Linked DNA regions of Homo sapiens: region 2 is linked to region 1. Evidence: fine-mapped expression QTL. A gene starts in region 1. The other region holds a variant in brackets. All regions are shown on one strand. Distances are from middle to middle. Region 1 holds the start of FHL3 (four and a half LIM domains 3). Region 2 overlaps SF3A3 (splicing factor 3a subunit 3).

The links. PIP is the estimated chance that this variant, and not a neighbour inherited with it, causes the effect.
Region 2: its variant is the best candidate, but not a certain one, in a credible set for the expression of FHL3 in T cells (TOPMed, PIP 0.76).

The regions. Positions count from the first base shown.
Region 1 is chr1:38,003,280-38,007,661 of GRCh38, forward strand. It overlaps FHL3 (four and a half LIM domains 3), which reads right to left and starts at 2,235. Exons shown (of 6, transcript NM_004468.5): 1 at 2,078-2,235. RefSeq lists an enhancer at 245-1,053 and silencers at 1,906-2,265, 2,296-2,355.
Region 2 is chr1:37,963,500-37,967,881 of GRCh38, forward strand. The region is part of intron 15 of SF3A3 (splicing factor 3a subunit 3); the gene reads right to left. Among named protein-coding and RNA genes, the nearest start is that of INPP5B, 19 kb to the left of the region's middle. The variant TA/T (reference allele first, on the strand shown) is at 2,742.

The DNA.
Region 1 (4,382 bases):
TTTTGTAGAGATGGGGTTCTCACTATGTTGCCCAGGGTGGTCTTGAACTCCTGGCTTCAAGTGATCCTCTGGCCTCAGCCTTCCAAAGTGCTGGGGTTACAGGCGTGAGCCACTGTGCCCAGCCTGGTCTGAAATTTGACCTGGACATTCTCAGCATAGGCCCAGGGAGAGAATAGGGGGCCCCAGGCCCATGGGGCTTGCTGAGGACACCAGTGGGGAAAGTGGTCGCTTCAGTCCGGTCAGCCTGACTCTAGTAAGCTTAACTCTTGAGATCTCTCATGCAGGTCCACGGATGTAGACACCTGCATGCTGCTTTGCCACTCACAAAGTCCATGCCCACCACAATCTCATCAGATCTCACAAAAGGCAGGCAGGACAGAGTATCATCCCCATTTTACAGCTGAGCACAAGGAGGCCAGGAATAGAGCAGGTTCATGCCCAAGGTCCCGATCAGGACCCAGGTCCCCTGCCTCCCAGCCCAGAGCTCTTCCCTCTCCCTAAAAATGCTGCCCTGGTGATGAAGCGGATGGTGACATGGGGGTGGTCAGTTTTTAAGGGCAGGGGAACAGGAGATGCACCAGAGCCTGGCTCTTCTCCTCAGCTGCTAGCCCTGTGATTGGAAGACACCCAGAAGCCTTTCCAATGCCCCATGCCAACCATTCAATCCTTCTGCCCCCACCCCCAACATGCCCACTGTCCAGGAGGACCCTGGCCAGGTCCCACAGCTGTGAGTCAGGATCAGAACAGACCCCTCCCCCACCTTCTAGAAGCTGACAGGAGACTTAAGGGGAGAAATCCAACTCCCTCAACCCTCACCCTCTGCTACCGGGCACCAACCCCAAGCTCTGCTCTCCCCCATGTGGCCTGGAAGTCAGAGAAGTTTAGGGAAGGGGGTTGGGGAGCAAGATCCCGCAGCTGCTCTGGGGACATGAGAGGAACAGTTCATTCACCCTGGGTCCCCCAGGGCTGAGGCAGCCCATCCAAGATTTGAGTTCAAAAATAAGTTGGGGCTGTCTTGGTGGCTGTGTGTGTGCGTGGGGCTCTTCTTGATCTCGAACTTACTGTCTCAGGGCCTCTGCCTCATGGGGGATCGGTAGGCTCAGAGTTTCTGTTTCCCCACAGCCTCACCTCCCAATGGTTCAGGCCCGGGTAAGTCAGGGGCTGTCCTGGAAGCTGTCAGACCACCTAGGTCTCTCTGCCCCCACTTAGTCTCAGTTTCTGGTGTCTGTCTCTGCTTCACTCAGCATCTCTGTGTCTGGGCACACTTCAGTCTCTGTCTTTAGGTTTTGGACGGCTCTGTATCTTGACTGGCTGTCCCCCAGGGGGCCCATGCCTCTGTGGATCTCAAGTCTTGGTCTCTTCTTGTCTACATGGCTGAATGTCTCAATCCCCACCACCTCCCTTTCTCTGTCTCTGCATCCAAGTCTCTTTCGCCACCTCTGCACGCCTGAATGTCTCTGTCTCTAGTCTCTGAGCGTCTCTGCAGGCCTCAGAGAGCAGATTCAGCATGAGGCCAATGACGCCCAAGCCTCAGGGCACCTCCAAGGCCCGGGGAAGGGCCCTAGGGAATGTGTTCGCTGGGGTCCCACGTATGCTTTTTCTGAAAATGCTCCACAAAGCCTAGGACGGCCCCCATGCCTCGGGTCTGTCCACCAGTAACTCTGTACGCCCGGTGTGTCCTTGTTTCAGTGGTCTCGGTAGCCTCCTGTGCCTCGAGTCCCTGCCTGTCTCGGTCTCTCGCTCCACCGGGCTTTCCGAGAACCTCAGTTTCTCCAGCGCTTCTGGTCGGTCGGTCTGTCTGTCTCTCTCCGGCTTTTCTATTTCAAACTTAGCCCCCTCCCCCGCCCAACTCTCGCTGCCGCCCCCGCCCCCGCCCCGCCCGATAGCCCGGAGGGGTCCAGTCCCGGCGGGCGCTGTCCCGGGCTCGGCGTGCCCCGGGCACCCGTGGCCAGAGCCCGGCGGGTACAGGGGACCGGGGCCGCGGCTGGCCTCAGCCCTCCGCGGGTCCCTTCGCTCCCCGGCCTGGGCGCGGGGGCGGACCGCCAGGGCTGGGAGCCGGGGTCGGCGGGGCGCTCACCTCGAAGCGGGCGGCGGGAGCGGGGAGCGCGCGGCGCAGGCGGGGCCGGGAACCGGGCGCCGCGTCCCTCGGCGGCTCCTACCTGCGGGCCGGGCCAAGCGGGGGCCGAGCGAGCTGCCGGCGAGGCTGCCGACTGCAGACGGACCGTGTGGGCGAGTGGGAGCGCGGCCCCAACCCCTCCCCGAGGAAGTGAGCGCGGGCCCGCCCCGCCCGGACCCCGCCCCCGGCCCCCCAGCCCGCCGCGGGGGCCAGACCCCGCCCCCACCTCCCTTTCGGCCGCCAGTCGGCCCGGCCCCCTCCTCCCGCCCGGCCTAACCTGGCTCTCCCAACCTTCAAGCGGCCGGGACCCCGCCCCTGTCCCCTCCCCGCAGCCTCTGTTCTCCTCCCCTCCCACCCCCCATCCCCAGCTGCCAGAGGGAGACTGCTGTATTCCATCTCAGGCCGGCGACACGAGACCCCGCAGACCATGGTCCACTGGGGGAGTCCTCTGGCCTCCTCGGATCCCCCCACCCCTTCACCTTACCCCAGGGGTGACACTCAGCCCGGCCTTAATCCAGCCTGGAGGAGGACGTTTTGACTCTGCTGTCATGAGCCTGTCAGCGGGCACCAAGGTGTTCTCTGAAAACATGGGACGAAGAGAGGACCCCTCCCCACCATAGGGCCTTGACCTCCAAAGGGTTTTATTCCACAACTTTGAGTAGCAAAAACAGGGGTAACCACCTCCCCACTTCCAGCAGCCTCCTGACACTGAGAAGTCCTGCCTTGCCTGGGTTTCCGCAGTGCCCAGGAATAGTTTTGACCTTTGAGGCCCGGGGGAGACCCTAATCCTCGGCCCCATGATCTTTGGGCTTCTAGGGTGGGGTGTGAGGAGTGTGAGAGGATGGGGCACCTCAGGGGTGGTGGAGGAGAGGGGAGGGGACCTCTGCGGTGTCTGAGCCTCTGGCTTCCTCCCTGTGTCCGTGAGGGAGGACTGGCGCCTGCTAGGGACACGAGGCCCCTCCAGGTCCTTAAGGCCACCCCCCCTGGGATCCTCAGGCTTGTCACTAGGAATAAATAGCCTCAGTCTGGAAGAGGTGGGGGAGGGAGGGAGGCAGGAGGCTCTACTGTGCTGTTTGTGGAAACAAGAGACAACAAATCAACCCCGGAATAACCTTAGCATCTAGAGTGAAGATTCAGGTGCCCACAGAGGCCTCCCCACACCCCAGGCTGGGTGTAGCAGAGCTCTCACGGAGGAACTAACACCCTCCCAGGCTGGGGCTCCTGAGAACCTTTCCGTCCCATCTCTGCATCATGCCTGGGTTCCTGGGTCCCAAGTCACCCACCAGGTCTGGTTTCCTTTCAAAATTAAATCATTGCTTGCTTATTATTGCTGTTGTTGCCTAAATGGTAAGAGCCATGAAGGCAGGGCTCCGTTTTGTTCCCCACTGCCTTCTCAGTACTTACTCCAATATCCGGCACATAATAAACATCTGATGAATGAATGGATACCAGACACTGCTTCAGTATGTATGCCCCTCTAACATCCTCGGTTTGGATCACAGGCACCTGCTATCTGGAGTCCAGGCAGTGAGCATCCAGCCCATGGATGGGGCCTTTTTCTGGGATTTTTTTTTTTTTTTTTTTTTTTTTTTTTTTTGAGATGGAGGCTTGCTCTGTTGCCCAGGCCGGAGTGCAGTGGCGCACTCTCCGCTCACTACAACCTCCACCTCCCAGGTTCAAGCGATTCTTCTGCCTCAGCCTCCCAAGTAGCTGGGACTGCAGGTGTGCACCACCACGCCCGGCTAAATTTTTTTTTTGTATTTTTAGTAGAGACGGGGTTTCACCATCTTGGCCAGGCTGGTCTCAAACTCCTGACCTCAAGATCTGATCTGCCTGCCCCAGCCTCCCAAAGTGCTGGGACCACAGGCATGAGTGACCATGCCCAGCCTCTCTGGGATGTATCTTGCAGGTGTAAGAGACTCCCAGCCCAGGGGAGTGCAGTGAAGACTACTCAGCCTTGGTGGAGTGGGTACCAAGAGGAGGTCAGCTCTGGGGGACGGGAGGGCAAAGGTGGGGAGCCTTCAGAAAGCAAGGGGTTATGAGTGAGTACAGAAGGGGCCTGATAAAAGGCAGAGTATTGGAATCTCTGTTCTTGATGCATGGCTCTAATCTCTCCTAAATAGCCTTAATGAGAGCCAGTACTTCCTGAGTTCTTTCTTTGCACCAGTCCTGAACACTTTACATATATTGACATACCTGATTATTCAATAACTTTATTAAATATATGTGCATCTATATTTGTTTGTTTTTGAGACAGTGTGTTGCT
Region 2 (4,382 bases), 40 kb before region 1:
GCTAAGTAGATAAATTCTGAAAGTAATACAATTGAAGAATCATGAAACTGCCAATGATAATTCTTTTTTTTTTTTGAGACAGAGTCTCACTCTGTCGCCCAGGTTGGAGTAAAGTGGCAGGATCTCGGCTCACTGCAAGCTCCGCCTCCTGGGTTCACGCCATTCTCCTGCCTCAGCCTCCCAAGTAGCTGGGACTACAGGCGCCCGCCACAACGTCCGACTAATTTTTTGTATTTTTAGTAGAGACGGGGTTTCACTGTGTGAGCTAGGATGGTCTCGATCTCCTGACCTTGTTATCTGCCCGCCTCAGCCTCCCAAAGTGCTGGGATTACAGGCGTGAGCCATTGCGCCTGGCCCTGCCAATGATATTCTTAAAAAAAAAAAAAAAAAAAAAAATTAGAGCCAAGCATGGTGGCTCATGCCTGTAATCCCAGCACTTTGGGAGGCCAAGGCGGGCAGATCATGAGGTCAGAGATCAAGACCATCTTGGCCAGCATGGTGAAACCCCATCCCTACTAAAAATACAAAAATTAGCTGGGTGTGGTGGCGCACGCCTGTAGTCCCAGCTACTTGGGAGGCTGAGACAGAAGAATCGCTTTAACCCGGGAGGTGGAGGTTGCAGTGAGCAGAGATTGCGCCACTGCACTCCAGCCTGGCGACAGTGCGAGACTCCGTCTCAAATAAAAAACAAGAACAAAAACAAACTCTGTATGGCTAAGAGAACACGATTTCTTTCTAGAAAGACTCTTAATGACTAACCCTTAAAAAATTACGTGATAAGTGTGATTTCAAAGAAGGCAGTAAGGCGTTGTGGAAAGAGGAAAGACTGTTTTAAGACACACGTGTTGTAATCCCAGCACTTTGGGAAGCCAAGGCAGGCAAGTCACCTGAGATCAGGAATTTGAGACCAGCCTGGCCAACATGCTAAAACCCTGTCTCTACTAAAAATACAAAAAAATTAGCCAGGCGTGGTGGCGAGCGCCTGTAATTCCAGCTACTCGGAAGGCTGAGGCAGGAGAAATCGCTTGGAACCAGGAGGTGGAGATTGCAGTGAGCTGAGATCACGCCACTGCACTCCAGCCTGGTTGACAGAGCAAGACTCTGTCTTAAAAATTAAAAAAGAAATTAAATGAAATGAAATAAAAAAAGAAGTAAAGAAAAAGGCTGCCATGAAAATGTTAATGGCAGAGAAAGCTACCACTGCGGGGAAAACAGGAAGCCTGGCGGTGGTCCTCTATGTGCTTCAGCAGCACATTCCCTGATATGCACTCCACTTCACTTTCTTCAAGAGGTATTTTGCTGCTGTGTTTCTATAGCCTCAAACACAAGCTTACTGAGGGCACTTCTATTTTTCCCTTTATATCAGTCATTCTCTTAACATGAGCATGGTGGCTCATGCCTATAATCCTAGCACTTTGGGAGGCCAATGCGGGTGCATCACTTGAGGTCAGAAGTTCCAGGCCAGCCTGGCCAACATGGTGAAACCCCGTCTCTACTAAAAATACAAAAATTGCTGGGCGTAGTGGTGCATACCTGTGGTCCCAGCTACTTGGGAGGTTAAGGCACAAGAATTGCTTGAACCCAGGAGGCGAAGGTTGCAGTGAGCCGAGATCAGCCACTGCATTCCAGCCTGGGCAACAGAGCAAGACTCTGTCTCAAAAAAAAATAAAAAATAAAAAAATAAAGTTGGGTGCAGTGCCTCATGCCTATAATCCCAGCATTTTGTAGGGCCAAGGTGGGAGGATCACTTCAGCCCAGGAGTTTGAGACCAGCCTGGGCAACATAAGGAAACCCCATCGGCACAAAAAAAAAAAAAAAAAGAAAATAAACTCAGAATAGTTTTATAAAGCACTTGCTTTCTTTGTCATAAGAAGTCAAGAAATTATATAAGTTAAAGAATCTTAGCGCAGTCCCACTGAAGAGATAATCTCTGTCAATATAAACAGTTTCAAATGACAGGTTGTAGCATGTTGCATGTTGGGCGGGGATCACGCCTGCAATCCCAGCACTTTCGGAGGCTGAGACAGGCAGATTGCTTGAGTACAGGACTTTAAGACCAGCCTGGGCAACATGGTGACACACCATCTTTACAAAAAATACAAAAATTAGCCAGGCATGGTGGCACAAGCCTGTAGTCCCATCAGCTTGGGAATCTGAAGTGGGAGGATCACTTGAGCCTGGGAGGCAGAGATTGCAGTGAGCTGTGATGGCACAACTGCACTCCAGCCTGGGCAACAGAGTTGGAAGCCCAAGGTTCAAGCTGACCAAACAGCTGAACAGCCTGCTAAACATAACTGAGAGTAAAGTGCCTGTAATTTAACAGTGGGGGGTGGGATGGGGGGGTAAAATACCTTACTTCTGTCTAATCAGCCAACAGTGAAATGTGACATAGATCCACTGAAAAGAATATAAAAAGCCGGGATGGGCGCGGTGGCTAACGCCTGTAATCCCAGTACTTTGGGAAGCCAAGGCAGGTAGGTCACCTGAGATCAGGAGTTTGAGACCAGCCTGGCCAACATGCTAAAACCCCGTCTCTACTAAAAATACAAAAAAATTAGCCAGGCGTGGTGGCGAGCGCTTGTAATTCCAGCTACTCGGGAGGCTGAGGCAGGAGAATCGCTTGGAACCAGGAGGTGGAGGTTGCAGTGAGCTGAGATCACGCTACTGCACTCCAGCTTGGGTGACAGAGCAAGACTCTGTCTCAAAAAAATAAATAAATAAATTAATTAATTAAATTAAAT[TA/T]AAAAAAAAGAAGAAAAGAAAAGGCTGCCATGAAAATGTTAATGGCAGAGAAAGCTACTACTGCTGGGAAAACAGGAAGCCTGGCGGTGGTCCTCTATGTGCTTCAGCAGCACATTCCCTGACATGCACTCCGCTTCACTTTCTTCAAGAGGTATTTTGCTGCTGTGTTTCTATAGCCTCTAACACAAGCTTACTGAGGGTACTTCTATATTTTCCTTTATATCAGTCATTATTTAACACATTAAAATCAATTCAGAAAACTATCCATACAACCATTCAATCAAAATCTTGCATAAAAGGGAGTTCACAGACCCAGGCTAAAAGCCCTGGTTTATACTCAGCACAGAGCTCTTCTCAAAGGAGAAACAATCAGTATTGCCGACTAATTCATTTCTCTTAAAAATGCAATAATTAGCTGGGCACGGTGGATCACGCCTGTAATCGCAGCACTTTGGGAGGCCGAGGTGGGCAGATCACCTGAGGTCAGGAGTTCAAGACCAGCCTGACCAACATGGAGAAACCCGTCTCTACTAAAAGTACAAAATTAGCCAGGCATGGTGGCGCATACTTGTAATCCCAGCTACTCGGGAGGCTGAGGCAGGAGAATCGCTTGAACCCAGGAGGCACAGGTTGCAGTGAGCCGAGATCGCACCATTGCACTCCAGCCTGGGCAATATGAGCGAAACTCCATCTCAAAAAAAAAAAAAAAAAAAAAAAAAATGCAATAATTAGGCGCGGTGGCTCACGCCTGTTATCCCAGCACTTTGGGAGGCCAACATGGGTGGATCACTTGAGGTCAGGAGTTCGTCACCTCAACCAGCCTGGCCAACATGATGAAAGCCCATCTCTACTAAAAATAGAAAAATTAGCTGGGCATGGTGGCACATGCCTGTAATCCCAGGTACTAGGGAGGCTGAGGCAGGAGAATTGCTTGAGCCCAGGAGACGGAGGTTGCAGGAGCCAAGATCGTGCCACTGCACTCCAGCCTGGTGACAGAGTGAGACTCGTCTCAGAAACAAAGGCTGGGCATGGTGGCTCACGCCTATAATCCCAGCACTTTGGGAGGCTGAAGTGGGCGGATCACCTGAGGTCGGGAGTTCAAGGCCATCCTGGCTCACACAGTGAAACCCCGTCTCTACTAAAAATACAAAAAATTAGCCAGGTGTGGCGGCTCATGCCTGTAATCCCAGCACTTTGGGAGGCCAAGGCGGGCGGATCATGAGGTCAGGAGATCAAGACCATCCTGGCTAACACTGTGAAACCCTGTCTCTACTAAAAACACAAAAAATTAGCCAAGTGTGGTGGCGGGCGCCTGTAGTCCCAGCTACCGGGAGGCTGAGGCAGGAGAATGGCATGAACCCAGGAGGTGGAACTTGCAGTGAGCCGAGATCATGCCACTGCACTCCAACCTGGGCGACAGAGTGAGACTCCGTCACAAAAAAAAAAAAAAAAAAAAAAAAAAAAAAAAATTAGCCAGGTGTGGTGGCACGTGCCTGTAGTCCCAGCTACTCGGTAGGCTGAGGCAGGAGAATCGCTTGCGCCCGGGAGGCAGAGGTTGCAGTGGGCCAAGACTGCACCATTACACTCCAGCCTGGCGACAGAGCGAGACTCCATCCATCTCAAAACAAAACAAAAAAACA